Homo sapiens: one gene and its partners. The protein of the gene in region 6 interacts with the protein of the main gene of each other region in a pairwise test. Each region holds a gene or a part of one and is shown on either strand. Other genes may lie near its edges.

Evidence for each region.
Region 1: the proteins of GOLGA2 (region 6) and MID2 interact in binary tests that used the Homo sapiens proteins (3 or more experiments, as listed by UniProt).
Region 2: the proteins of GOLGA2 (region 6) and CCDC120 interact in binary tests that used the Homo sapiens proteins (3 or more experiments, as listed by UniProt).
Region 3: the proteins of GOLGA2 (region 6) and LIMS2 interact in binary tests that used the Homo sapiens proteins (3 or more experiments, as listed by UniProt).
Region 4: the proteins of GOLGA2 (region 6) and ALKBH3 interact in binary tests that used the Homo sapiens proteins (3 or more experiments, as listed by UniProt).
Region 5: the proteins of GOLGA2 (region 6) and ZBTB42 interact in binary tests that used the Homo sapiens proteins (3 or more experiments, as listed by UniProt).
Region 7: the proteins of GOLGA2 (region 6) and SAMD4A interact in binary tests that used the Homo sapiens proteins (3 or more experiments, as listed by UniProt).

What each region holds. Positions count from the first base shown.
Region 1 is NC_000023.11:107,929,262-107,932,709, reverse strand, and holds the end of MID2 (probable E3 ubiquitin-protein ligase MID2), read right to left. Parts: 3' UTR 1,073-3,448; downstream 1-1,072. UniProt on the Homo sapiens protein: E3 ubiquitin ligase that plays a role in microtubule stabilization. Mediates the 'Lys-48'-linked polyubiquitination of LRRK2 to drive its localization to microtubules and its proteasomal degradation in neurons.
Region 2 is NC_000023.11:49,061,744-49,066,055, reverse strand, and holds part of CCDC120 (coiled-coil domain-containing protein 120), read right to left. Parts: intron 4,098-4,312; 5' UTR 4,015-4,097; coding exon 3,952-4,014; exon of another isoform or gene 3,939-3,951; intron 3,822-3,938; coding exon 3,731-3,821; intron 3,589-3,730; coding exon 3,455-3,588; intron 2,196-3,454; coding exon 2,055-2,195; intron 1,687-2,054; coding exon 1,392-1,686; intron 1,021-1,391; coding exon 958-1,020; intron 603-957; coding exon 428-602; intron 310-427; coding exon 211-309; intron 1-210. UniProt on the Homo sapiens protein: Centriolar protein required for centriole subdistal appendage assembly and microtubule anchoring in interphase cells. Together with CCDC68, cooperate with subdistal appendage components ODF2, NIN and CEP170 for hierarchical subdistal appendage assembly.
Region 3 is NC_000002.12:127,654,516-127,658,827, reverse strand, and holds part of LIMS2 (LIM and senescent cell antigen-like-containing domain protein 2), read left to right. Parts: intron 1-611; exon of another isoform or gene 612-798; coding exon of another isoform or gene 799-866; intron 867-1,265; coding exon 1,266-1,425; intron 1,426-3,931; coding exon 3,932-3,998; intron 3,999-4,283; coding exon 4,284-4,312. UniProt on the Homo sapiens protein: Adapter protein in a cytoplasmic complex linking beta-integrins to the actin cytoskeleton, bridges the complex to cell surface receptor tyrosine kinases and growth factor receptors. Plays a role in modulating cell spreading and migration.
Region 4 is NC_000011.10:43,901,073-43,905,384, reverse strand, and holds part of ALKBH3 (alpha-ketoglutarate-dependent dioxygenase alkB homolog 3), read right to left. Parts: intron 3,870-4,312; coding exon 3,660-3,869; intron 1-3,659. UniProt on the Homo sapiens protein: Dioxygenase that mediates demethylation of DNA and RNA containing 1-methyladenosine (m1A). Repairs alkylated DNA containing 1-methyladenosine (m1A) and 3-methylcytosine (m3C) by oxidative demethylation. Has a strong preference for single-stranded DNA.
Region 5 is NC_000014.9:104,799,917-104,804,712, reverse strand, and holds ZBTB42 (zinc finger and BTB domain-containing protein 42), read right to left. Parts: upstream 3,613-4,796; 5' UTR 3,516-3,612; coding exon 2,247-3,515; 3' UTR 1-2,246. UniProt on the Homo sapiens protein: Transcriptional repressor. Specifically binds DNA and probably acts by recruiting chromatin remodeling multiprotein complexes.
Region 6 is NC_000009.12:128,262,508-128,266,007, forward strand, and holds part of GOLGA2 (golgin subfamily A member 2), read right to left. Parts: coding exon 3,463-3,500; intron 3,375-3,462; coding exon 3,281-3,374; intron 3,185-3,280; coding exon 3,078-3,184; intron 586-3,077; coding exon 527-585; intron 198-526; coding exon 56-197; intron 1-55. UniProt on the Homo sapiens protein: Peripheral membrane component of the cis-Golgi stack that acts as a membrane skeleton that maintains the structure of the Golgi apparatus, and as a vesicle thether that facilitates vesicle fusion to the Golgi membrane.
Region 7 is NC_000014.9:54,569,744-54,574,055, reverse strand, and holds part of SAMD4A (protein Smaug homolog 1), read right to left. Parts: intron 1-4,312. UniProt on the Homo sapiens protein: Acts as a translational repressor of SRE-containing messengers.

The DNA of each region.
Region 1 (3,448 bases), on a different chromosome or scaffold from region 6:
AGTGGTTAAGAACTGCTCTTGAATGACCCGACGAGATCAGTCGCAATTGTAATTTGTGTATTGTGCCCAACAGTATAGGAAAACCACCTTGATCCTCCATTCCTGGAAATTCATGGTGGAGGAGAGTCATTCTCATTAGCTGTCATGCTATATACATTTCTAATAAGCTTGTAACAACCTATTTGGTCTCTGTTACTCCTAACCATCATAACTGAGACCACCTCCCTCCCAAATACAGGCTCAGATTCACTGAAACTCTGGGACCAATTCTATTCTCAGATGGGGAAACATAAAGAATCCCATATCTGCCCTGTCCTCGCACATTAAATGGAGATGGCCTTTCCAAACATCATCACACACACACACACAAAATATTAAAATTTTAGCTATGGGTAATAGCCTCATATTTGGTATTTGCCTAGGTTGTTCTTCAATTAAACCACTAAACACACAATGTTCCAAATTCTTTTCTCCTTTGAATTTTACTCCTTTTACCTTTGGGCTGTAGTTCTTATAGGCCCCTGGTCTGATGACCTGTTTCAAGTCACTTCTCTAGCTGCCGCCCTTGACTGCCCTGCTTCATTCACTTCATATCGCATGATCCCTTTTAGTCTTAGTGCCACTACAAATCTGATTAAGATATGCCCAATTCTAGCCCTGAGGGACCTCCTGGCTTCCTCCCAGTCTCCTCCTGCAGGCCAGCTGTTTTAACAGTAAGTCAGCTCACTTGCTTCTGGTGCTACCCTAATCTTAATCAATGGGTTCCAGCACTGGGATTTTATTTGTTCTTTAATTCTCAACTTCTGCTCCAATCTCTAAAACTGAATGTGTCATGTTTCCTTGAACCCTATATCTTCATTTCTTTGGTCTTCTTGACCATATCATGCTCCTGAAATCAAAGTCTTCTTGATTGGATTTTGAGCTCCAGACCCCCTGGGTCCTTTCTGTCCAGATCACTACCTATTATATGATCCTTGGTTTCCCCTAGTCACTTACCCAATTCCAGGAGAATCCACGGCCATCTTCCTTTTAGTCCTCCCCCAATTCAACTCCAGCGAGAGACAACAAAGAATTCATGAATACATATATATTTATTTAATTCATAATATAGCATTTTGGATGGGCTGGAATATTGTAGAGAGGGATGAGGCTGTGTAATCCACAGATGCTCATATTTCTGTCACTAGGAGAGACACTATTGGTCCAGAGCTCCCAATACAAACAGGCGTGGGGTAAAGCATTTGATAAAAAATAGTCCAACAATAGTCTAATAAATAGTCTAGCCAATAACAACAATACAGCATATGTCTGAAGCTGGCAGACTACACCATAAAAGGCAGTTTTGTCTGACCTGATGGCAATCAGTTTGGCCAACCTGTAACACACAGCCAAATACAGCCATTGGCTCCAAGGCTGCAGTTGGCTTCAGGAGCTAGAAATAAGTGTAGGAGTGGTTCTTACCTACCTGCCTGACACTCTCCATTCCTTGGAGGAAGCAGTATCAAATATTTGAGTTTATTCAAAAGTCCATCCGTGGATTGCTCCATCTTGGTAGTCATATATAAATATGTAAACCATGGAAGTTTAGAAAATTCACCTAGAGTGTTTTAGCCGAAAAGAACAGATAAGTGATTTTGCTGCAATCTGAATTTCACTGCATCTAAAGATACACATAGAATTGTATAATAAAAACACATCCAGATGCAGTTACTCTTACTTACAAGTAGCCAGAACCTCAATGTGGCATTAAAATTTCTTTCATACTCTCAAAACAGGTTTTACTTTATTTTTGATTATTTTTGTGCTTTCTTCAATAAGACAATATAAAAAGTGGAAACAAGCATAAATTGCAGACATAAAATAATCTTCTGGTAGAAACAGTTGTGGAGAACAGGTTGAGTAGAGCAACAACAACAAAAGCTTATGCAGTCACCTTCTTTGAAAATGTTAAATACAAGTCCTATTCTCTTTGTCCAGCTGGGTTTAGCTAGAGGTAGCCAATTACTTCTCTTAAGGTCCATGGCATTGCCAGGATTCTATAAAAGCCAAGTTAACTGAAGTAAATATCTGGGGCCCATCGCACCCCCACTAAGTACTTTGTCACCATGTTGTATCTTAGAAGTCATTTTTCACTGTTTGACTCAGAATTTGGGACTTCAGAGTCAAACTTCATTGCTTACTCCAAACCCAGTTTAATTCCCCACTTTTTTAAGTAGGCTTAGCTTTGAGTGATTTTTGGCTATAACCGAAATGTAAATCCACCTTCAAACAACAAAGTTTGACAAGACTGAAATGTTACTGAAAACAATGGTGCCATATGCTCCAAAGACATTTCCCCAAGATAACTGCCAAAGAGTTTTTGAGGAGGACAATGATCATTTATTATGTAGGAGCCTTGATATCTCTGCAAAATAGAATTAATACAGCTCAAATGGAGTAGTAACCAAGCTTTTCTGCCCAGGAAGTAACAAACATCACTACGAACATGAGAGTACAAGAGGAAACTTTCATAATGCATTTTTTCATTCATACATTCATTCAATAAACATTAGCCAAGCTAATGTTCCAAGCACTGTGCCAGGTATTAACAATATAACAACAATAAAAGACACAGTCCTTCCTCTCAAGGTGTTCAGTCTAGTAGGGAAGATGATTATTCATTAAAATTTTTGGTGCATCAGAATCATGAGGAGCTTGTCAAAAATGTAAATTCCTGCCTATGTTCTCAGATATTCTGGTTAGGTCAGGAGTGGGAACCCAAAATCAATTCTTTTAACAAACACTAAAGGTGATTCTAACACAGGCGGTGTGAGGACCACACTTTGAAAAACACTGCTATACAATGTGATTATTGCTGAGAGAGGGGGATGCTTGGGGTGTCTTTGGATCTCTAAAGAGGGATGCATCATCAAGTCTAAGGAATAAAGAGTTAGTCTGGTTGAGAGAGATAGAGGTGAGGAAAGGTAGTCCAGGATAGAGTCAAAAGTAGGGTGGGGAAATTAGATCTTTGTCCCAGGGCACTAAAATCTAAAAGACACCACAATAAATGAACAGTTTTGGAGAGCCAAGGACAAGGCAAAGGAAATTGTTCTACTGGAATGGAGGTTGCATTTTCTGTACTTACAGCATTTTCACACTATTCCTTTAATTTAAGAAAAATTTCTGTTGTTTACTCTGGGCATTAAAATTGTTAATCATGTTTCTGCTGCAGGCCCAGAGAATAACTTGTGTGAATAGTTGTGTAAATAGTTAAACTTGGCTACCTTAATCAATGTGAGGGGGAAAGTGGCAAAAGATTAAGCTGTGTAAGCAAACAGGGACATGAAAACCCAGACTCTGTAAGGAGTTGGGACCTTCTACTGGGTGCTAAGGGAGCCAGTGAAAAGTTTGATGAAGGGGAAAAAAATCATTTTTTTTTGTTTAAGAATTTGGGGATATGCCCTAGGGA
Region 2 (4,312 bases), on a different chromosome or scaffold from region 6:
AGACAGGGTTTCACCATGTTGGTCAGGCTGGTCTTGAACCCCTGACCTCAAGTAACCCGCCCGCCTCGGCCTCCGAAAGTGCTGGGATTACAAGCGTGAGCCACCGCGCCCAGCCATCCCACCTTTTGATAATGTTGTCCTCAAGCTTCCAGTGAGAACTAATGGTTCCCTCCCCTCTGATCCTCCAGCCCACCCTCAGATTCCCCTTACTTGCAGAGCTGGGGGCCAGCGCCCCGGGTGAGGACAGGGGTGGCAGGCACACTTCGCCCCTCAAAACTGGAGGCACTCCTGGGCAGCGAGCGTGTGGGGCTAGACAGAGACAGGCAGGCCTAGGTTAGAGACTGTACCCACCAGCAGACCCTCTGCCAGCCCAGGCTTGCTATCCCATTCCCAGCTCCTGCGGAGGGGAGGAGGGGCTCATTCTCACCTGGTGGGGCTGGCCACAGAGTTCCGCCGGCTCTTCAGATCCCCATAAAGATCTGATGGAGGTGGTTTCCATGGGGTTCGCCGCTCAGGGCTCCCCCCAGATACTGCCCGCAGCTGGTCCCAAGCCTTGGGTGGTGAGGGGCGCTCGGCCAGAGAGAAGCAGCCATGGGGCTCCTCTGAGTGGAAGAGAGCAAGTGGGATAGAATTCAATGAGGGGGGCCCAGAGGGGGCAGGACAGGCTGGGGGGCAAGGCCATGGGGAGGGGCAAAGTGCTGGGACAGGTTAAGCAGGCTGAGGAGGAACTAAGGCTGACAAGTAGGTTCTGGGGCTGTGGGGCTGGGGTGGGGTGAGGCTAAGAAGATGGGGGACCCATAGGAAGATGGAGCATGGCTAAGGAGAAGCTGAAGCAGCACAGGAGGGGCTGGGCATCAAAGGATGGGCTGATCATGCAGGATGTGGTCGGATGAATAAAGGGGATGGGCTAAAGGGACGTAGGAGTCGGGGGCAGGTTTGGGGGATAGGAGTCCTCACCGTTGTCATGGCTGGCCCCAGACTCTGAGAGGGAGCTGCTCTCTGAGTGCAGAACTACGTCCTCTACAGGTGAGAGGGGGAGAAGTGGGCCTCTCACTCCCAGGCCTGGGTGCTGCCCCCTTACACCACTGGGTGGGCACCTCTACTTGGGCCACCTTCTGGCCAGTTTCCGCCTCATCCTGTTCCTGTCCCAAGAATCTGCTTTTACCAGAGCCCAAGACCACCCCAGTTTGGTTCCTGACTGTCCTGGCAGATATTCATCAGTCCCCCACAGTTTGTCCTTTCCGGTAAGCCAGTTTGTCACAACTCTTCTCACGGGTTGGGCCACTTGAGTTGTGCCTACCTCCCGGTTTTCACCGGCCAGTCACCCATCCCAGCCCTACCACGTCCATTTGCCAGTGTCCACTCTCCCACCCTCACCAGGGGATGCTCACCTTGGCTGAGCTGAGCAAGACGCATGCCCAGGCAGACTCCCTGGGTGGTGATCACTGACCCCGTGGACAGTGGCAGTGGCTGGGGCAGCGGGAGCACTGGGAGGCCAAGGCGGGCCCGGACATCCCTGAGCTGCTCCTCTAGCTCATGCAGCCTCCTCAGTGCATCTGCCTGGACCTGGCGCCGGCGCCGGCGCTGCTCGGTGCTCAGATCAGGGGCCAAGGCCAGGCGGCGGGCGGCCGCCGCGATCTGCTGTTGCACTGACACCTCGCGTTCCAGGGCCTCAAGAGCCAGCTCCTGTTGGGCCCACCCAAATGTTGGAAATGGCCAGGAACAGGGACCTGGCGGGGCCAAACCCAGTAGAGGCTGGCCTGCACTTCCTGCAGCCTATTCAGACCTATTCACCCCGGGGAGGGGGCGTGTCAGGGCCTCTCTTGGTGAAGGGCTGGGTCTGTTCATCTTCCTTAGGGTTGGAGGCCTGTCCTGACAGTTAGGGACCAGCATCCTCCCTCATCACAGGAAACTAACTCCAGAAGCCCTTTTCCTTCTCATCTTAGCCTCTCCCTCACCTGGCCACAAGCCCCCTCCCCACACCTTCCTCCTGGCTACTCCTCTGTACCTGTCCCCTCTTCCCACCCTCTTGCTCTCCACACCCATCTGCTCACCTCAGCAGGGCACAAGGAGTGGTGTGCTTGGTTGGGGTGCGGTGGAGGGTAGGCGCGGGCTGTGGGGGGCCGCCGGCGGACCAACTGGGGCCGTTCACCAGGCTCTAGTGGGCACTCAGGGGGCAGCTGGCCAGTCAGCTCCTGGTGGGAGGCAGGGGTCAGAGACTACCAAGGGTTAGTTGGAAGGATGGGGTGAAGCATTAATGATCCCAGAAGCTACAGAAGTCCTACCAGGAGCCTGGCCCTGCTCAGCAACCACGCACGATACTCCCCTCCCTCCTACCAGTATCTCCACTAGGCAGGTGTGCCCAAACCTCAGTGGCCCAAACCCCTGGGGTGGTGGGCATGGGAGGCAGGGAGACCTGCTTTGGAATCCAGAATTGTTTTGTTTTTATAAAGGTGATACCATCGAGATCCTAAGTATTATATAACTCACTTCAGGGGCTGTGGCTGCGTGGTCTGAGCTGTAGTATTATTTCCGGCACACTGTGGGCATTCACAGTAAGAGGGGTAAACTGAAACTACAGATCAGCCTGTGCCAGTTCAGGTCAGACTGTGCTGCCAAATTTTGGACAGAACCTGTTTTCTGAGGTTTGTTGGATTTGAAATTGTCAACAGTGGGCCTGTATTACCATATTTTTTTTTTTTGAGGTGGAGTTTTGCTCTTGTTGCCCAGGCTGGAGTGCAATGGCGCAATCTCAGCTCACCGCAACCTCCACCTCCAGGGTTTAAGCGATTCTCCTGCCTCAGCCTCCCAAGTTGCTAGGATCACCACACCCAGCTAATTTTGCTTTTTTTTTTTTTTTTTGAGACAGAGTCTTGCTCTGTCGCCCAGGCTGGAGTGCAGTGGCGCAATCTGGGCTCACTGCAAGCTCCGCCTCCCGGGTTCATGCCATTCTCCTGCCTCAGCCTCCCGAGTAGCTGGAACTATAGGTGCCCGCCACCACGCCTGACTAATTTTTTGTATTTTTAGTAGAGACGGGGTTACACCGTGTTAGCCAGGATGGTCTCGATCTCCTGACATCGTGTTCCGCCCACCTCGGCCTCCCAAAGTGCTGGGATTACAGGCGTGAGCCACCGCGCCCAGCCTAATTTTGCATTTTTAGTAGAGACGGGATTTCTCCATGTTGGTCAGGCTGGTCTGGAACTCCCGACCTCAGGTGATCCACCTGCCTCGGCCTCCCAAAGTGCTGGGATTACAGGCGTGAGCCACAGCGCCCAGCCTATTTCATTCATTCTAACACATCTAAGCTGAGCTTTGAGGAGAAAGTAGGTGACAGGGAATCTACAGCCAAGACAAGTGGTTGAGGAATTGCCACCCAAGTCTGTCTACCTAGGGGCCCCAGCTCCTCACCTCCTCCCAACCTCCCCGCCTGATACCCCTAGGGCCAGGCCCTCACCGCCTCCTGGAGACACACTTTGCGGAGCTCCTGAAGTTTCAGGCTCAGGGCCTCCTGCAGGGTCCGCTGCCGGTCAAGCAGCCCCCGCAGACGCTCTGACTTCACCTGGGGGGCAGCCTCTCCGAACAGGGCAGCTGGACACAGAGGGAGCAAAGATCAGTGGGACAGCCAGGGCATTCTGGAGCAGCTGTGGGGCAAGGGACCAACTCTTCCCGAGCAAGCAGGTGGTGATTCAGAGCAGGGGAGGAGGCAGCAGGAGGGGAAGCAGCCACCGACCTGGGGCATTGAAGGTAGGAGAGCTGATCAGCTGACCTTTGACTTCCATCTTGGTGCTGTCGAGAGGCCGTGGCTGATGGCTGGACAAAGTCTGGCAGTGACACAAAGGAGCCGTTAAGGAAGCACATCCCATGATACCCCAACCCCCAGCCCTTCCCAGCTTCCCATGCCACAGCGGGGAATAAGGGGTAACCTGGGCCCCACGTGCCTGCTTGACCTGCCCTTTCAGAATCCGTGTGGATGTCTGGACCCACTTGGCCCTGGTACCTTGGTTCCCTTCGCATTGAGTGAGAGCACAGCAAGTGGGGAGCTGGGCGGACTTACAACGCCTCCTCAGAGGCCCATGGGTCACAGCCACGAGTCTTGCCTGGGGAAGGAGAATTAATGGGACAGATTCAACCAACTATAACAACAATGGACACGCAGTCAACACCTGGGTGCCTGCAACAGTTACCTATGATGCCACACTCAATCTTCAGAGCCACCCGGAAAGATTCGTATCCCCATTTTAGAGATGAGGAAAGGAAGGCACAGAGGTGAAATAACTGGCCCATAGCCACAGACATAAACCAGGCCCACCCC
Region 3 (4,312 bases), on a different chromosome or scaffold from region 6:
AACCAGGCAGACGTTACCAGCTGGTTGCGTCACTCCCCAGCGAGCCTGATGCTCCCTCTCTGCCCAGTCTTCCAGGAATCCACTGGAGTTGACACTTGAGACAGAACCCACGTTCTCCCTTCCTAGCAAAAGGTGTGGGGTATCCGGTTCTTTGAAGGTCGTAGAGGCAGTTGGGGTGTTTAGGACTACATCCTGACCCTGTTTTTGAGTCTAAAAGGCCCCTCCTGGCTGTGCCGAAGGGCCCTGGGGCTGGACTGATTGCGGGCCTGGCTCACTGTGGGCTTTTCCCCTGTAGTTCGCATTTCACCCCTCCCAGAAGGAAACCCACCACTGACTCTGGGGACAGGCAGTGCCCAGTATGGATGAGATTTGCTCCCCCTCACCACACTCCCGTCTCGTCTCAAAGATTCATACTCTTGTCTTTTTTATTTATTTTTTATTTTGAGACAGGGTCTTGCTCTGTTGCCCAGGCCTGAGTGCAGTGGCACTCAGCCTCGGCCTCCCAGGCTCAAGCCATCCTCCCACTTCAGCCTCCAGAGTAGCTGAGACTACAGGCTTGCACCACCACACCTGGCTAATTTTTTTGTTTTCTTGTATTTTTATTAGAGATGGATTCTTGCCATATTGCCCAGGCTGGTCTCGAACTCCTGGGCTCAAGGGATCCGCCCACCTTGGCCTCCCACAGTGCTCTGGATGACAGGCTTGAGCCATTCTGCACACGCACCCAGCTACCCTCTTGCCTGCTCTGTGTTTGGGTGGTTATGTGTTTATTGGAGGCAGTCAGTTTGAAACTAACTCATGGTGCAGAGGATGGAACCATGGAAGACTGAGCAGTCTGGATTCAAGTGTGGACCCCGCTCTGCTGTGTGAGCTTGGGCAAGTTACTCAACCTCTTTGAGGCTTAGGTCCCTTTTCTGGAAGAGGCCATAATAATAGTAGCTGCAGTATTGCCCTGGGGATTAAATGAGAGTGTGAATACAGAGCCGCTCACCTGTGCTGGGTGGTGTTCTGTGTGCGAGACTCTCTGGTCCCTGAAGAAGGGGTAATAGGGGCCCAAGTGGGAGTTGACTGGGCCCCTGACACCCCAAGGGGTGGGCACTACAAGCACTGAGCAGCCTGGACCCTGGGTTAGAGCGATTTTCCTGATCCTGCAGAGCGTCTTCACTTTTTAATACGAGGTGTGTCTGTCGGGCGCAGGCCCCCGCGTGTGCCCCATCTGCACCCCTGACCAGCTCTGACTCACTCCTCCTGTCTCCTGCCCCCAGCAATATGTCGGACGCCTTGGCCAACGCCGTGTGCCAGCGCTGCCAGGCCCGCTTCTCCCCCGCCGAGCGCATTGTCAACAGCAATGGGGAGCTGTACCATGAGCACTGCTTCGTGTGTGCCCAGTGCTTCCGGCCCTTCCCCGAGGGGCTCTTCTATGAGGTGAGGACACTACTGAGGGCTTTCTCAGACCCAGCTCGGAGTCTGCCCTCTATGAGCGGGTGGGCCGGGCTCCATGCAGTGGTCCCGACTGGTGACAGGGCCAGGTCTGGAGCCAGCCCAGAACCAGGCTTGAGCTCCTGCACGGGCCCATCCTTCACCTGTGAGATGTGAACAGCACCCCAGGTGCCCTGGGTGCTAACAGAGAGCCACCTTTCACCAGCCTCCTCTGGGCAGATGCTGGGCAGGCCCTGGGGGCAGGAAGAGCCTGCCCTGGTGGTGCTTGCCCTCCCTGGGGACTAGACAGTGAGCACAGCAACCGCATGGCCCACCAGCTGGTGCTGATGCCCTGGGGGTCAGGGTTCCCGGGGTGGGGTGCGGTGGTGCTCAGGGAAGGTGAGGTTTGGGCACACCTGAGGGGAGGGAGACATACTGGGCAGAGGGCACCGCATATGCACATACCCTGTGGTGGGAGAACATGGGGTGTATGGAGAGCAGTAGGAAGACTGGTGTGATGGAAGCCGAGGGCATGAGAGGGAGAAGGCCAGGAGCTGAGGAAAGGGAGGTGGATCTCGCTTGGCCCCACGGGCCTCTACGGAGCCATAGGCTTCCCCTCTGCAAGAGGCAGGAGCCACCTCGGGGTGTGGAGCAGAGGAGTCACACTATCTGCTGACATTTGAAAAGGTGACCTGGCCGGGCGCGGCGGCTCACGCCTGTAATCCCAGCACTTTGGGAGGCGGAGGCAGATGGATCACCTGAGGTCAGGAGTTCAAGACCAGCCTGGCCAACATGGTGAAACCCTGTCTGTACTAAAAATACAAAAAATGAGCCTGGCATGGTGGCAGGTGCCTGTAATCCCAGCTACTCGGGAGGCTGAGGCAGGAGAATCACTTGAACCTGGGAGGCAGAGGTTGCAGTGAGCCGAGATCGCGCCATTGCACTCCAGCCTGTGGGACAGAGCAAGACTCCATCTAAAAAAAAAAAAAAAAAGAAAGAAAAAAAAAAGGAGGCTTGTGGCCGCTGTGCTGAGGAGAGGATGTAAGGCGGGGCAGGAACAGAGGCTGGGCCAGGAGGCTGGGGGGACCAGGAGCTGAATTAGTGCAATCACCCAGATGAAAGTGAAGGGGCCCCCACCAGCTCACAGGAGCAGTCGTTAAATCATCAACAATCTTGGGAGCTGGTTGGGCAACAGAGTTATTGTTTAAAAATTAAATTATATCAGCGTACAATGGGATACAATTTTATTAAAAACAAAGGTAACAAATACTCAAAGCATACCACTTGCTAATTATTTTGTTCCACTTTACTATCGTCTATGCTGATGGGGTTATTTCTGTCCATTGTGCTGGTGTGGCCACTGCACATCTCCCCTCAAGTCCACATCGATGTCATGTTGGCAGCCAGGAGTTGGCCATGACGGGAATATTCACACCATGGACACTGGCAAACGCCCCACAGCAGGGCCTGCCTCTGCGCCCCAGAGAGCTGGCTGTTGAGCATTTACCAGAACATCACTTGTGCTTGTGGTGGCGGTGGTGGCCAGGGGTCAGATGCTGGCTCTGTTTCAAGGTAGAGCTGATGGGACTGGCTGGTGGATGGATGTGGGGCCTGTGGTCCGCCTGGCAGAGCAAGAGCCGCTGTTCCTCACAGTGTCTTCAGCCTCCTGAGGAATGCTGTCTAAGTGTAGAGGCAGCGGGAGGGGTGGGCAAAGCTCTAGGAGGGGTGGCCATATGCCCAGAACAAAGCCTCTCTCTCTCACACACAGCAGGTGCCCAGAAGATTTTCATTGCTGAAAGAGTTTAAGCCCTTCCTGACTCTACAGGTCACTGGGTAGGGCTATATCCAGTTTAGTCTAATAAGACACTCATTTTAGAGAACAGGGAAAAACCAATTAAAAAACAGAAAATACAATTGTTAGAGGAAAGCAGAGGCAGGCTTTGGCCCCGCTTGTGGCCAGCACAGGGGCCCTCGCTGGCAGCTGCCGCCTGGAGGGTGTGCACACTGGCTCCTGCTGGCCGCAGCCCTGAGCTCTTCCCACTTCCCCGTGCCCAGGCCCTTCCTGCGTTCCCTTCCTTCTGTCTCCTATACCCGGGTCTTCATGGCCTCTGAGAGAGCTGGATACTCCCACAGAGAAGGTATACGAAATAGGACCAAGTGACACTACACTTCAGACTGGATCTCATCCCTCCTGGCTTAAAACCGCCTCGCCCCCAGCCTGTTCTCCGGACCAACAGGGTCCAGATCCTCAGTAGACACCAGTGGCCCTTTGACAGGTGGCCTCACGGACCTCTCCAGCTTCCACGGGGGCACCTCCCTTTGCACCCCACCATCCCAAAAGGGCCAGTGTCCTCTCTGGCCAGGCCTGGGACCCACTGCTCCAGCCTCAGCCCGGCATGCCCCTGCCTCAGTGCCTCATCCCCTGCTGTCAGGTCCTGACCCAACAAGGGCCTGGGCTGCTCATGGGGATGATAGGTGGTTTGCTTGTCCTCTCTCTGCGACCCCTTTGCAGTTTGAAGGCCGGAAGTACTGCGAACACGACTTCCAAATGCTGTTTGCTCCGTGCTGTGGATCCTGCGGTAAGGCCGGTGACAGTACACATCCTGGGCTGCCTGGGAAGTGGGCAGCAGTGGCGGGGGGCAGGGGGCCGAGGGGGTACACAGAACTGGCCCAGCTCTTTCCTAACTCCCCACCTTGCCTCTCTGAGCGGCAGCCGTCAGGCCCCCTACAGGCATCACCATCCCACGAGGGAGCCCATGGGCCAGGCAGAGAGCAGGCGGAGTGCTAGGTGGACAGGGCTTGGGAGGGTCCGAAGAGGGGACAGGCACGTGCTCCCCAGCCAGCAGGGACCTGTCTTCTTCCAGGTGAGTTCATCATTGGCCGCGTCATCAAG
Region 4 (4,312 bases), on a different chromosome or scaffold from region 6:
CTACATGAAGCTGACTGAGCTGATGCATGAATCAGAGGGCACTGGTGCTTACGAAACAAAGATCTCCTTACCGTCTCAGCACAGAGAGAAACTGTTAGGAATACAGTGTGTGGAACTGGGGCAGCTTTCAGTAGATCAGCAGTTAATGGAGATCTGCTCAAGGTGCCAGACTACAAAATAAACAGCTGCTGCAAGGGTGGAGGAATTTGAATTTTTAAAAAATCAAGACTATTTCTCTTTGAAAGTGGCCCAAAACAGACGCTTTTCTGTCTCAAAACTGCACATTTGAACAAAGTGCAGGAAATCTCATGACTCTTCCATGTCCGCCTGAGATGCGAAACTGTGACTCAAGTCAAATAGGCATTAACTTCTCCTCCGATGGGTCAAAGCTAATAGGAGTTTGAAAGATTCCCTCCCACAACCTCTAATAAACCCTGAACGTCTCGGTGACAGACATGAAAATTACAATCTGTAGTAGCACACTGAGATAGGTCTCTAAGAGTTACAGGAAGTCAGACTCCTACAAATCCCACACAGAAGACTAACCTAATTTTTACTTTTTAAATTATGCTTTACCTTGGGCTGTATGAATCATGAGTCATGTTCTCATCACCTGAGTTTATAAAGAAAAGTAGACAAAAATGTGCAATAATCGCTTCCTTTCAATCCTTTGGAAAAAAGGATTATTTATAAGATAAAGATGATGCACTTTAAGGTATATTTCCAAGGCCATCAACTCAAAGAAAGGGTTCTGCACTTCGAGTTTAGCTACATTTGTAGAGCCCCAGGTTTTTGGAAATCCGTTAGTGAGACCTGAAGGAATCTTCAAAAGTTTAAACTTGTATCCTGTTTACACAAAAATGGACTTTACAGGTTCTGGGGAAAAAAGGTCACTTTTTACTCATGTGTGATTATAATTTCAAACATATTAATATTCAATTTCCCAATCTTAAACAAAAGCCAGAATTGAGATGATATACAAAAACTGCATGAAATTCAATCATAGTTAAGACTAGGCCAGAAGCCAAAACTTACTACAGTCAACAACCTGAAGTACCAACATGTTTATATTTCTTCCCAAATCCCTTTCCTCAGGCAACTTTGTTAAAATCTCAGGCAAATTTTCTTACTTATTGGATCAGTATTTTAATCAAATCAGCTACCATCGTCATAGCGCAGATTCCCTTGCCACTGGCAGACAATTATGTGGACTTTACCACTTCTGAGTATTTCATGGCCTGTATTATCATTCATGTTCATCAAAATAGGCTCCAAGAAGGCTGAGGAGAAGAGAAAGCTACAGCATGGGGCACGGCAGGATAAAGCGCTGTTCCAAATGCTTGCCCACAGGAACAATGTATGTAGTAGTTATGCTCTCCATCTACATGTTACCCTATAACATAACTGATGTGTACTACCAAGAAATAGCTCTTGATCACCATATGTCATATCTTTATATGAGAAAATGAAGAAATTCAGCTCTCTGGAGGGGAGAAGAAACGGGGTATTTCTGGGCACCAGAATATTGTGAATGCATAATATTTGGAAATTGCTTGTACAGTAAAATGATTTATCCAAAAAGCATACTTAGGGAATTCTTAAGCTTCAAATCTATAAATAGGCCCAAATTTTTAAAAAGGGGCATGGTGGTGGTGAATATATGTGTGTAAAGAAACAGTAACTGAATACTTAAATACTGAGCAACAAAGAAAGTAAGTGTGAAGAACTAAAAACCATTATTATACCAAAGGCTATATATACTATAGCTTATTTGCCAATCAGGAGGCCAGAAGGATAACTCTAGGAGGAAGGCGCAGTGCTAGCATATGCTAGATGAGCTCCAGGAGGAGAAAGACAATTTCATCTTACTCATTCACTGCTACGGCCCCCGGTCTCAGGACCACTCCTGGCAACAAGCTGAGGTTCCATACATCCGGCTTGAGAAGAGGGTCTGAACTTAAATAATGAGACTGATACAGTGTCTCTCTACTATTTATGCAACAGGAGTCTTACTAAGGGCAGGATGAATTTTTCACACATGTGAACTTGGTATTTAACTGAGTGAAAGCTGTGTACAGAAGTATAATCATATCTAAAACAAATATAGCAAAAGCTGGTTTGTCTGATTCTCAAGTGGTACTCCTTGGTATATGAGAAGGCTGCTTGCCAATGTAACTGAAGGCTTAGAGAGCAAGTTCACTTAAAAAAACACCGGCAACTACCAATCCCCTAACAATGATCAAACTTTTTATGTAAACATAACCAAAGAAAGCCTAATCAATGGAAATTATACCAACAAAAGGTACTTAATGGCATATATGCAAAATCACACAATATGCTTTAAAAATACCATGCATGGAAACCCAATACACACCAGGAAAACACTCAGTCTGTTAACTGTATTCTTATGGAAGTATATCTGACGAAGAACTGACACAAGAACTAATAATGATGTGGTCTGGCTTAGGTCTATTCAAAAATCAGCCTGGGCCAGGTGCAGTGGCTCATGCCTGTAATCCCAGCACTTTGGGAGGCCGAGGTGGGCGAATCACCTGAGGTCAGGAGTTTGAGAACAGCCTGGCCAACATGGCAAAACCCCATCTCTCCTAAAAATACAAAAATTAGCCAGGGGTCCTGGCACACGCCTGTAATCCCAGCTACTCGGGAGGCTAACGCAAGTGAATCGCTTGAACTGGGGAGGCAGAGGTTGCAGTGAGCCGAGATCGTGCCACTTGCACTCCAGCCTGGGCGACAGAGTGAGACTCCCTCTCTAAAAAACAAGCAAACAAAAAAACAGCCTGTTGGTTGGCCTTCCACACCGACTGGGTCTGGTTTAACATTATAAGCTGAATGATCAGGAATGCTGGTTAGGAAGAGACACAAACACTGAAAATAAAATAATTGGCTCTTTTCTTGGCATTACTATCTTTCTTAGTCGTAAGGGACTACAGTTTTGATTTTTTAAAAAATTAATAACCCTAGTATTCCTCAAATGTCACATAATTGAGGTAAGCGCTGGGGTGGAAACTGAAGTTATTATATCGTTATTAATTTTTTGGTCACTGTTTTTCTACCTGAATGTGGACAGATCACCATCTCTGATAATCTGGCTTGAGTTTCCTCTCTCTGAAAGAGTTAGATTCACCTGTATTTCAGGAGAAGGCTAAGAAGGAACAAACATATGTGAATGCTCCCTTTCAGAAAAGTGGCCATATTACCATGAAGAACACTTAAAATAAAGGTTTCTTCAGGGACGTCCTCCTTAGCCTCCTTCCTCTTCCTTAGCCTCCCACTAGCTTGAGTCATTCTTCTAAGGCTTTCCTTCACAGCATTGATCACAATTGCAATTATTTGAGTAATAGGCAATATTTATCTACCCCAACTAGACTGTATCTCCAGGAGGACAGGGAGTTTATCATCAATGAAATGAGCCGCCAGCACCTAGCATAAGGCAGCCAATTCTTGTTGGACTTGTAAATGAATGAAGGAGCACTTTGGAAGTCAAAAGTTAACCATGGGGAAGTAGTCACTTGAAAATGTTTCATCAACAAAATGTGTATTCCCATGCTCGAAATCTGAAAGTAGAAGCTTTTAGGAGTTCTACTTTTTCCACAGACTAATAAGAGGCAGGAAGAGCATAAGAAAAAGAGAATACTCACTGGTGGTGGCTTCTTTCTCATCTCAAATGTGCGTGTGGCACCAAAACTTAGTGAAGCAATAATGGGGCACCTCCCTAGTGAGGGTTCATCATCACTGTGCCAGTCCACGCTGTCCTTCTCATTGCGATAAAGATTGCAGAGTAAGGAGTTGAAGGTGTGGCCAGTGTTCTCTTCAATGCGGTTCTTTAGTGTGCGCAGCACAGGGTGCCACTGCAATCCACAGACCAAGAAAAGGGCAAGACAGTCGCATTACACACAAAATGACAGCCGCATGGAAAAACAGAAAAGAAAGGGCAAAATCAGCCAAGTTATAACCAGGGCATGTAATAAGCAAACCACATGGAATGCAATAAACAGAAGGCAAGAAAAGTAGTTTAATTCCCTCCCATCATTTCTATTTTGAAGCAAGTTGATCTCTGCAATTTTATAAAAGTACTAAATTTAGTACAGCAATATCATGAGGACCAGAATCTATCTAACCATCTCATCCTTTCCATGTCAAATACATGGCCTTTGCCATGTATTTTCATCAGTATCTTCAGGGCAGTGACCTTGGTAAGTCATTAAGGTGGTAAGTGGAGCAGCAAAGCCGATATGTCACTAGGTAGTCAGCAGACCCAGACTGAAGCCTGAAGAGTGAAACAACTTTCCTG
Region 5 (4,796 bases), on a different chromosome or scaffold from region 6:
TTTCCACTGGAGGTGGGCTTTATTACTGTCGCCATGATGTGAAAAGAGGAAGACAGCACCCATTCCCACGCCTCCTAGACACTGTGCACCAACAACTGTCTGCTGGGGTTAGCACGGAGCTGTCCCCACCCCCAGGGTCAGAGCACCCACAGGTGCCGAGCTGGCCCAGGAGACCCCCACGCTGCTGACGCTGTTTGCCTTGTGTCTGCACAGGCCTCTACTAAACTCTCCCACACAATTAGTGTCTTAAATATATGTACACGTATATATTTTGTCCCAACTGTGTCAGTTATAAAATGAAAACTGACCACTTCTCCTTACGTTATCTTCACAGTAGCTGTGCAGAAGACAACAAATCCAGTGTTGATAGCTCAGGGCAGGCTGCCCACCCCAGCAAAGGGAAGTTCTTCCCCCATGGGACCCACTGGGGGACCCAGTGCCGCGGCCACATCTCCGTGCTTGGGTGGCAGTGTAGCTGCCCATCTACGGGGTGCCGGGTTGGCTTGGGCCTTGCCATGTGCCAGACGCATGCATACATACACACACACACACACACACACACACCCCCCACCCGATTATGGAGCACATCACACCGATCCCTTGCAGAGGTGGGGGCTGGGGCCCAGGACAATCAGAAGCAGGGCCCCTCCCCCAGCTGTCTCGAGACCAAAGCCATCCAGGGCCTCTGAGCCCTGGGGCATCACCCAGAAGCGCTGGGCTCCCAGGCTGGCACCCAGCACACCAGGAGCCCAGGGCGCGTGGGAGATGCGCTAGGGACGGTCTTTCACTCCAGACCAGGCTGACTAATAAATATGACATCCAGTGTTGTCAGGAGATGAGAAAATAACGTAGACTTGGCTGGACTCTGTTGTCAAGGCCATTCCCAGTCACAGAGGAAACATCCCAGGTGGTCTCCAGGCGTCCAGGTGGCTCTGCACCTGCCGACCCCCAGAGGCCAGTGAGGTTCTGGCAGCAAGATGTGCTCCATTAGGCAGGCAAAGCAGGGCGACCTGAACCAACGACATGTGTGGGGGTTGTGGTCTCCACATTCTATTCATGTTCGAGGAGCGTCAGTCTCCCAAGGCTGCGGATGGAGGCCCCTAGGGTGCTGCGACTCCCACTCCTCACCTGCCCCTAACCCTGCCGCCATGGCCACTTTCACCCATGCCTCGCCGTGGGGAAAGGAAGGCCCGCAAACCCTGCCCCTGGCGGACAGGGCAGCCCTTGCCTCTGCTCAGTCAGTGCACGGAAATGCCCACAGCTCCAGGGAAACCCCCTAGCAGGCAGAGTGACCGTCAAGGTAAGGCCCACGGTGGCCCAGCAGCAGCACACAGCTCAGCGGCCCAGACCCCACCCTGGGGGATGCCCAGAGGCTTCCTAGACCTGCACTCAGGCAGACAAGCATGTGGCTGGGCGGCCACCAGCAGACATCTGGCCGCCTCAGGAGGCTCTTCCTGGCTCTAAAGAGAATCCAGTTCCAAATTCCCACTTTCTCTGCTCAAAGTTACAGTGTGGTCATAATTGCACGCTCTCATGGACCCACGTCCCACCCGAGTGACAATGATGCCACAGCCACTCAGCTTCTAGCTGGCTCTACTCCTGCTGCCTTAGGATCCCTGCTGGGGCTGCACCCCCCCCCCCACCCCGAGACACCAGCTGTGCCCAGATGGCCCCTGCTGGCACTCACTGTGCCCCAGGCCTTCCTGGCAGGGGTTCCTGCTGCCGCTCCCCAGGAGTGTCCTGTTCCCTCCCAGCGCCCCATTGGGACGCACACCAACAACTTTTCTGACATGTGAATAATTCACCTAGCGTGGGGCCAGGCTCATGAAGACCTCCCCAAGCCTGCCAGAGAGGTGGTCAGGAAAGTCCCGGGCCGGGAGATGGATGTGCCATCTCACACGGAGAAACGGGGGCAGAGCCAGGTGCTGGTTGGACACCCCTCAGAACTTGGCTGGAGGGGACGGGAGAGGAAGATAGTGTCACAGCCTAGGCAGGGCACAGCCTGGGGGCCGGAATGAGTTGGAGAGTGAGGGGAAAGGAGAGGCAAGGTGGGAGGAAGGCTGCCCAAGTTACCGAGTCTGAGGCCAAGTTCCAGGAAGAGGCAGCATTCTCTCTGCCAGGAGGGTGGAGCCATCTGGCCCAAGCAGGGACCTCCACCTGGTCAGGCTTCACACCCCATGCTGTGTCCCACCTGGGAGGGCCCATCCCTTCCCTTCCACCCCACCCTCAGGACCCACAGGGATGCATCACACCAGAAGGGACTTGACGAGGCCACAGTGAAACTTGCGGACGTGGCGGTAGAGGTCCCCGGACTGCGTGAAACGGCGCTCACACCACCGGCAGGCATGCGGCTTCTCTCGAGTGTGCACTACGGTGTGCCGGCTCAGGTTGTGGGAGTACTGAAAACTTTTGCCACACTGCACACACGTATAGGGCTTCTCACCCGAGTGTGTCCGCTCGTGCCTCTTCAGTGTGTATGTGCACGAGAAGGTCTTCCCACAGAGCGGGCAGGTGGGTGCCACGCCGTCGGGTGAGAGCCGGGCCCGGGTGCTGTCTCGCTCACGGAAGTGGGCACTGAGGTGCAGCTGCAGCACGTGGGAGCTGGGAAACAGCTTGCTGCACAACGGGCAGATGCAGAGGGGCCCACCAGGCCCCAGCTCGTCCTCACTCGCCAGTCGCCCTGCACCAAGCTCCAGCTCCCGGCTGCCCTCTCCGCTGAGGGGCAGCGGCTGCAAGCCCACCACCAGGCCCTTGGCTGCAGGAACAGGAGGTGGCTTCGGGGGACTGTGGGGGCTCCTAGAGCTGCTGCTCTCCTCCTGTTCGGACAGTGAGTCCCGTTCGTCCTTCACCAGTGGCTGGGCCCCTGGCTGCCTCTGGCTGCAGAGGGGTGTCTGGAGGACGCACGGTGGGTGGACCCGCTCCTGCCTTGGGCCAGACTTCAACGACAGGTCCAGGGCCTGGTCTGACTCTTCTGGGACCTGGCAGGGAGGAGGCCCAGATGCTCGAGGAGGGAGGGCAGCCTTGACCCCAAACGGGGGGAGCTTGGCCTTTCGGGCAGCTGGGCAGAGGTCCGCGGTCCAGACAGGCCAGGGGCACGGTGGCTGAGCAGGTTCTGCCCCAGGGGCAGGGTTCCCCGGGTCCAGACTTCGATCCTTCTCCTGGAGCCTGCCCTTGCAGACCTTGACGATGTCATACATGTGCAGGTAGCTGGCGGCTGCCAGGACGTCCTCCACAGGCAGGCTGCGCAGGTCCAGGCGGCCCTCGTACATGAAGTCCAGTAGGCGGCCGAAGGCGGGCGCCGTGACGATGTCGCCGTTGAGCCGCACCGTGTCGCGACTGCCCGCGGGCCGGTCCCTGTAGAAGAGATGGAAGTAGACGCTGCACGCGGCCAGCACGGCACGGTGGGCCGGGAAGCGCGCGTCGCCCACCAGCACGGTGCAGTCGCATAGGAAGCCCAGCTCGCGCTGCTGTCTCAGGCGGCCCAGCAGCCGTCCGCCGTGCTCAGGGAACTCCATGCCGCCGCCGTCATCACCTGGGCACAAACGGGACGCCCGTCAGCGCGCCTGGAGGCGCCCACGAAGCGCCCTTCCCGGCTGCAGGCAGCGCGGAAAGAGCGGCGCGGGAGTGACGCGCGCAACCTCCCGTCCAGAGCCGCCGCGGGCACCTGCCCCGAGCAGGAAAAACTCGATCGAAAGTAAACAGTAGCAGCTCCGCCGCGGGGGCGGGTCCCGGGACTCAGGCGCAGGAGCCGGAGCCGCGCAAACCTGCGCGCGTCCCCGCCCGGGCGCTCCTGAACTTCACTCCCGGGCGGCCGCCCGCTCGCGGCGTCCCCGACGCCCGGGTGGCTGCGCCGCCACCCGCCCCACGCCTCCGCGCCGCCTCCAGCTGCCGCCCGGCCCACCAGATGCCGCCGCCGCCGGCCCCATTTATGGCAGCGCGGCCGCGGGGAGCGGGGAGAGGGCCGGCGGGCGGGCGGGGCGGGCAGAGCCGGGAGCCCACCCCCAGCGCTCACCTCCGCCGCCCCGAGCTCCTCTCCGGTCGCCGCTCGCGCGCGCGCCCTCCCCAGGGCGGCCCTGGCGCGCGTGGAGCTGCGGGCAGCGCGCCCCGGCGGGGAGGGCGCGGGGACGGCGAGGGCGCCGGGCGGGGCGCGCTCCAACTTGGCTGGCCCAGCGCCGCCCGCCGCTCGCCCCGCCCCAGAGAGAGCGAAACTCGGGGCGGGGGCCGGAGGGGGCGGGCCGAGCGACTTCCCGGAGCGGCGGAACCGCTGAGGTCACCCTCGCCCCCCCTTCCCTGTCCGCCCCACCCGGCCGGGCCCCGCGCGCAGCCAGCAGGGGCGCTGGGGTGTGAGGGGGGTTTAGGGCACTGCGCGGGGGCAGGGGGTCTCTCGCGATACTTGGCGCTTTGGCCTGGGTCCCCCACCTCCCAACCTTTCCCGGCATGGGGTCCTTACTGCGCCAGTCTGCAAAAGGAACCCTTCCGAGGGTCCGCTTGTATCCCAGCCCGCGTTGGGCAGTCACCCGAGGGTAAACCCGGGACCCTGGCCTCCCGCCACCTCGCAGGGCGCCGGCCTTGGGATGGCGTAGGGGTTGCGTGGATTGGGGGTCGTTAATTTTGCAAAGATGACACCTCCTTCTTCCTTGAAAGCCTCTTTTTGAATTTAATTCAGCTGGGACCCTCTTCCAAACATTCAAGCAGGATGTCGATCCTAGAGTCCAGAACGGGGACTTCCACCCTCTCCACAGACCCCAGCCCAGCGTCTATGGGGGACCCAGCGCAGAGAGGCACGGAAAACGGGC
Region 6 (3,500 bases):
ACCATGGCCCCAGCTGGATGGCGCTCCCACCACCCATGGGGCTGCAGCCTCTTGCCTGTTGAAGCAGGAGTTCCGTCATCTCTAACTTCTTTTGCAATTCTTCCAAGTTAAGCTGCATGCCAGCCTTCTCAGTCACTAGGACCCGAAGCTTCTCTTCCAATTCTGATTTCTCTTGCTTCAGGTCCTCATTGCTTTGGCTATGGCCAGAGGCAGTAGAGAAAGGAATGAACGAAGAACAGAAAGGACTGCTTTGGTGATCCACCCTCTACCCTTGCCCCACAACCACAGAACTGTGGCACTGGAAGGAACCCCAGGAATCAAAAGTCACATGTACAGGCCAGAGAAAAGATACGAGTTACCCAAGGCTACACCATGAGTCAGTGGCACAGCTGGCACTAGAGCTTTGCTGGGCACACATGCACACCTCTATGACTACCTCATCATGCTTACCTGTACCCCCCACCTCCCAGCACACCACCCATGCTGAGGGCCCCCAGACCTCCCATCCCACCATCCCCCATCCTACGTGTTCTTGTATAACTCCAGCCTGAGGGCGTCTCTCTCTTTGGTTAACTCCTTGTTGTACTGTAAATACAGAAAGGTTAAGTCAGGATATAGCAGGCAGAGGAGCAGCTGGCCAACCAGTAACAACAGCTACAGTAAGTACTCCACAGTAACACTTCCTCACTCTCAATCACACTTGACATGTTTTCAAGGCATTTCCAAGCCCATGGTCTCATTTTGTTGTTGCTGTTGTTGTTTTTGAGACAGAGTCTCCCTCTGTCACCCAGGCTGAAGTGCAGTGGTGAGATCTCAGCTCACAACCTCTGCCTCCCTGGTCCAAGTGACTCTCCTGCCTCAGCCTCCTGAGTAGCTGGGACTATAGGCGTGCACCACCATGTCCGGCTAATTTGTTTTGTTTTGTTTTTTCTGAGATGGAGTCTCTGTTGCCCAGGCTGGAGTGCAGTGGCGCAATTTCGGCTCACTGCAAGCTCCGCCTCCCGGGTTCATGCCATTCTCCTGCTTCAGCCTCCTAAGTAGCTGGGACTACAGGCCCCCGCCACCACACCCGGCTAATTTTTTTGTATTTTTAGTAGAGACGAGGTTTCACTGTGTTAGCAAGGATGGTCTCGATCTCCTGACCTTGTGATCCGCCCGTCTCAGCCTCCCAAAGTGCTGGGATTACAGGCGTGAGCCACCATGCCTGGCCTAATTTTTTTATTTTTAATAGAGAGGGGGTTTCAACATGTTGGCCAGGCTGGTCTTGACTCCTGACCTCAAGTGATCCGCCCGCCTCAACTTCCCAAAGTGTTGGGATTACGGCACCCGGCTGGTCTCATTTGTTTTTAAAAAAACTTGGTAAGGGTGGCCGGGTGCGGTGGCTCACGCCTGTAATCCTGGCACTTTGGGAGGCCGAGGGGGACGGATTACGAGATCAGGGGATCGAGACCATCCTGGCTAACACGGTGAAACCCCATCTCTACTAAAAAAAAAAAAAATACAAAAAATTAGCCAGGCGTGGTGGCAGGTGCCTGTAGTCCCAGCTACTCGGGAGGCTGAGGCAGGAGAATGGCATGAACCCGGGAGACAGAGCTTGCAGTGAGCCGAGATGGTGCCACTGCACTCCAGCCTGGGCAACAGAGTGAGACTCCGTCTCAAAAAAAAAGGACTTGGTAAGGGTGGAAGGAACAGGGAGAGAGAGCGAATTTATGTATGTACGTATGTATGTATATATGTATTTATTTGAGATGGAGTCTCCATCTGTCACCCAGGCTGGAGTGCAGTGGCGCCATCTTGGCTCACTGCAACCTCTGCCTCCCGGGTTCATGTGATTCTCCTGCCTCAGGCTCCTGAGTACCTAGGATTACAGGCATGCGCCATCATGCCTGGCTAATTTTTGTTATTATTTATTTATTTATTTATTTATTTATTTATTTTCAGACAGAGTCTCCCTCTGTCACCCAGGCTGGAGGGCAGTGGCACGATCTCAGCTCACCGCAACTTCCGCCCCCGGGTTCAAGCAATTCTCCTGCCTCAGCCTCCCAAGTAGCTGCAATTACAGGGGCACGCCACCACACCTGGCTAATTTTTTGCATTTTTAGTAGACACAGGGTTTTGCTATGTTGGTCAGGCTGGTCTCGAACTCCTGACCTCAGTTGACCCACCTGCCTCGGCCTCCCAAAGTGCTGGGATTACAGGCATGAGCCACCACACCTGGCCAAGATCGAATTTACAGCTGGCTAACAGAGGCCCAGAGAGATCAGATAATATTGCTATTGTTATTATCATTATTACTACCACTGTTTGAACCTTTATTGAATGCTTCACCAGGCACCATGCTAACAATCCCATTTAATCCTCATAACCACCACATGAGACAGTTACTATTATTACCTCTATTTTGTAGATGGACAACACGGAATATTAGAGGTTAAGTGCTTGCCTAAGATCACTTAGACAGAGCTCGGATTTGAACACCCAGGTATATCTGACTCTCTAAGCTCATTTGTTCCCCGAGGGTGGGGGCACAAATAGGAAGGGGGAAATTATCTTTTGTTCAGTTTTTGAAAGGATGATATATTCAGATAGTCCAAAACTCCGAAAGGGCAGAAGGGAAATATCTTCCAGCCGTGCTGTTCCTCTCTCCTGAGTTTGTTATGAATCCATGCAGACACGTTTTATGTATATTGTCATAGTACATAGGTACACATACACACACACGTTCCCTCTCTCTACACAAATGGTAACATACTAAAGATACTCTTCTGTACCTTCACAGTACAAGTACCATATTCCCCCACCTAGGACTTGACCAAGGCCACAGCCAGGTAACGGCACAGCGGGCACTTGGCCTCCGAGCTCTGCGTCCAGTGTTCACTCCCCACAGTGCCCCCAAACTCACCCACAGCAGCTGACTCAGCCCCAGGATGCCTCTAGCAACCACACACAAAAGCAGTGATAAATGGCCCATGCTGCCTTCTAGGCAGGACAGTCAACCCTGCAGAAGGGACCTTTAGGCTCACTCCTCCATCTGGGAAGCCAGTATGCCAGGGGACGGGGCAGGCAGTTGGACTCACCCTGTCTGCCTTCTTCTGCTGCGTGGAGACAGCAGAGAGAGCCCGCTCCAACTCTCCCACACGCCGCCGGGAATACTGCAGGCGGCTGGCCAGATCTTCAGACTCTCCTGGAATGAGAGAGGTTGAGATGGGGCCCAAAGGACTCCCCCTAAAGGCCTGTCAAAGTGCCAGGTTGAAGGATGATGGGGTGCCCAGATTCCCACCTTCTTTCTGCCTGGCAGCATGCTGAGTGTGAGCCAGGGCTGTCTGTAACTCAGCTTTCTCTGATACGAGGATCCCTATGGTCTGAATGTGAACCTTTGGGAGGAAACCCAAGCAAGTGCTGAAAAAGAAGGAAAGAAACATTCTCCAGAGGACAGGACGGAACTTCACACCCTCCACTCACCTGTAACTGCTCCCTTAGGGCTCCCTGCTTTTGGTGGC
Region 7 (4,312 bases), on a different chromosome or scaffold from region 6:
TACCATTACAATGGCACTGTATTATCTACTGTGTAAAAGAAACCACTGAATCATTTGATTGCTTTTTCCTAGTAAACTAAGACAAGAAAGCTGTTTTAAAATGTTGATATGTGGAATGGGAACAAAACAATAGAATGAGCTTCCGGGTTCCAGGGAATCCCATGTTCCTACATAAAAGCAGGCAGGTACTCTGAATTCCAAGCTGGCTCTTGGGATGTAGGCAGCAGAGCAAGGCCCAAGCCTCGACTCTAGGCCCCTGTTCTAAAAGTTCTGCTTTCTTTGGGAAAATCCTGCCTCAGGCAGCTTCAATGGAAGCAAAAATAGCTCAGAAGAGATGTCTGCTTCTGCATCTTAATCTATGTGAATTGGATGAGCTCAGTGAGGCCTTGGAAGGAATGATCAGGAGAGATGAAAAGGAAGGAACATACTAAAATCTCAAAGTAGTGATTGTATATTTTAAAAAGGAAAAGAAAAGATTTCTACGAGCACCATACCTTTCCTAGCAAATGAGTTACACAAAGCACTTCACCCACAGATGAAAACCTCCAAATTTCTCCTTGGGTCAAGGAGAAGCAATATTTTCCCTCTTCTCTGGTGTTGTCAATTCTCTCTAGAATTAGACTTCTGTAGGACTGTCTGGGAAGTTTTCAGTTACTTTCAGCCCTTCAACCCTCATCTTGTGTCCTCGTTTGTTTATTTAAACAAAAACAAGTCAATTTGACTGTTGTGAAGTTTCTCTGCCTTTTACTTGCTTTGATGGGGCCTGTTTATAGCATATACTCAATTGTTGAAGGCCGTGAGTGCCCAGGCGATACAACCAAACCCAAATTATTCACAACAAAGAGTACAAATATATGTGACCTGCTACAACTTACAAGCAGCAGTAAACTGCAGGGTCATCCCAGACTGACCCAAAGAAAATTACAAAACCCTAAGTGAAAAGTGCTTCATATATAAAGCCCCTAAATATTTCATTCAGCAAAATGATTTCTTCTTTTCACATTCACCAACTGAAGGAAAAAGTGTTGATAAGTTATTTGGGAAAACTGGGTCAGGGCTGCATATTTTTAGGAGACAGAGTGAAAAAACAAAGCTAAAACATAGAAGGTGGGTCCCAGTAGACTTATATCTTTTTAGGGTTCCAAGTCATCCTCAATCTCTTCTTCATAATCCTTTAAATGAAAAGATTTCTGATCATTTAGAAAAATATTATTCATATCAATTCTATATTAATTAAAGGCAAATTTAAACCTGAGGGATAGAATAGATCCTTGCTGGATCATTAACAAGTAACTTCCGGACAATAACAAGGTTTTATAATCATCATTTCTCAGATAAGAAAACTGAGGCTTAGAAATTATTTAACTAGCCCAGGCTGATTTAAAAATCTGTACTCTAAAAATCTTCTACAACTTATGCCCTCCTATGACTATAAATAGATGGGCACCTGGAGAATACTTTTTTCTCTATTTCCATCCTTCCTTCTCCTGCATATGCCAATGCGGACAGCAACCAAGCTGCCCTTAGAAGATAATGCCACCATGTGGCCAAAATGGAAACTGTCTGAACTAAACTGGCTCTTCCACTCATGCCTCTCAGAGGATCATGCATGTAGGCCCATACATTAAAGGGGATAACACTATCTTCTGCATGGGAGATACCTTCTTGACCCCTCTTTACAATCTTTTTATATTAAAATATTGAACCAACTCCTATTCGCCCCTCAGGACTCAGCTCAAATGTATCTCCTCCTCAGGGAAGTCTTCCCTGATTCCCCAGGCAATAAGTGGCTAGGTTCACAATGCTCCCAGTAGGCCTCTCCTCATACTTTTTATCCCCATATCTATGCTTCAACACCTATGATATTATATTAGTCATTTACCCCACACTAAGAGTATCTATCTGTACTAGGCACTGGACTAGAGTTAAGTTACCTTTACATTTCCATTGCATAACACTGGGTCAGGAAAATAGCAGGCAGTCAGAAAATGTTTGTGGAATGAATAAATGAATGAAAAAACTACAAACAAGATCTTATCCATATCATCAGGAAAACCTCTTCTGCTGCTTTCTTTTTATGCCATTTGTAACCTTAAAAAGTAACGCAGGGTGGAGGATGGCATACTTGTACTACAGAAACCAAAACCATAAAAATCATGGAACCAACATACCCACCCTCTAATGACAGCAAGTTTACACAAATATGGGGTGAGGGTGACAGCCCCTCATCCCATTCTAAATATGTTACCTCCAATACACTATGGATTATCAATTTTTTTAAAAAAGTTAGAATTGTGTCTAGAATAAGAGTAATTACATTCTGAGAGAGAGTCTTCAAGCTCCACAATTATTTTTTTGTCTCAAACATCACCATTTTGGATACCCTTTTCTCTTGTATTTAACTATAAGTATAGGAATTTATTGTCATTTACTTACCACAAACATACACAAATAGTGTATATTTTGTGGGTTACGTTTTTGTGGATTAACTTATAAATCTCTATGAAAAATATATTTCAAGTCCAAGTGACAAAAGCCATAAATAAACAATGCCACAAAGTCTATTTTTCTTTTGGAAACTTCAGGTAAAGTCAGTGGGTTGCATTTTTGCTACTTGTAGGTATCAAATGACCTGCTAGTCCTGGAACTGAGACTGGCCAGAAGTCTCAATGTTCAACTGGAGCAGTAGCTGAAGAGACTTATCTAAGGTTATAAGGATCCTGGGAACAAGACTGTACTAGAGAACTGATCATGACCATATCTGTTAAAAGAAAAACACATACAAATAAATCCATAGGGACTGATTCAATCATTTCTTGGAATCTCCAATGACCATGAGCCTGAGGCAAAGGATGAACCAGTGAATCACTAGATTCTCAATAAATTTAAGAGAATGAAAGCACCAAATTACATCCCACAAATCTCAAATAAATCATGTTTAATGCGCAGGATATCTCACTATTTAAAATCAGTCCTGCATAAAACGAGAGATATATTCATACTATTACTAGTAATTTTTTTTTATTATACTGAGATCGAGTCCCATATATGAATTTGGTTCCCATTTACCAAGTTTTAAAATCTCTAAACACTAGACAAAATGTGAGGGTTTTTTAAATTGATGATTACAAAATAAAGTGATACAAGATGACTTCGGTACAGGAAATCTCAGCAATCCAATGAATGAGTCATTCTGCACAGCCTAGTTTTCTGAATTGGTAAGAGCCTTACACATCAAAACAGCTCAGAGGTTAATTATTCTGGGTGTAAACATTTCCAAAGTATATTGAACATTTCCTTCTCTTCTTAAAGAGTGTATCTAAAAATGTATTATTTCCATAGTTCACCGTTAACAACAGTAAATAGCAATTATTTGTTTATGTTATTATAGAGTGGTGCCTACAAGGTCAATTGAGGGTTCCCACCCTAATATTCCCAAGCCTTCAAAGTTTCTGCCCCAATTCTTGTCTAAAGTTACAGTTTTTCTGTCTCTTTCCAAGTTGTCAGGCTGTCAGGGGTCACTTTTTACTACTGATTACAGCAGTCCCTCACCCCATTCTAAATGTGTTACCCCCAATACACTACGGATTATTTGTCAAATTTTTTAAATGTTAGGATTGTGTCTAGAATAAGAGCAAGTACATTCTGAGAGAGGGCCTGAAATATTCTCTTGGACTTTCATGCTATCTACTCTGGTTGCGAAGTGGACTTTTTGCCCCCTTCCTGGTTCTTGGCTAGTTTCCGGATATGCAGAGAGCCACACTACAGACTCAGGTATGCTATGACAACTCCTGATGCTCTTTATGATCCCCACACTCCGAAAGTAAACCAAATCATCACATGACCTCCTAAGAAATTTCTGTCCTGGCCACACAACAAAACAACTGCAAAGATTTCCATGCAGGCAAAACGTCTAGGCGAAGGATTAATCCAGAAACTGGAGACCAGTTCCTATCTTACACAATGGTTCTATATTTTGTATATCTACATCATTTAGCAGCATGAACAGGTGGGTATCTTATACAAATAAGTATGGCCAAACATGTCTTAAGGGAAAAAAAATGCCAAGTGACTTCAAAAAATTCACAGTTCAATTTTTTAAATTATGAGATTTTTAAAATTAGGCCACCTTATTTTAACATTTAACTGTTTTACTTACTAACCTGGTGGCTGCTCTATTGGGAAAAGTCATCTCCATTACTCAAAGGGAAAAAGTGCTGCTCCAACATTTGAATAACCTAAAGATGAGTTTGAACAGTCCCTACCAGCACTGAAATCAAGCATTCAACCTAAATGACTCTGCGTAAATCCT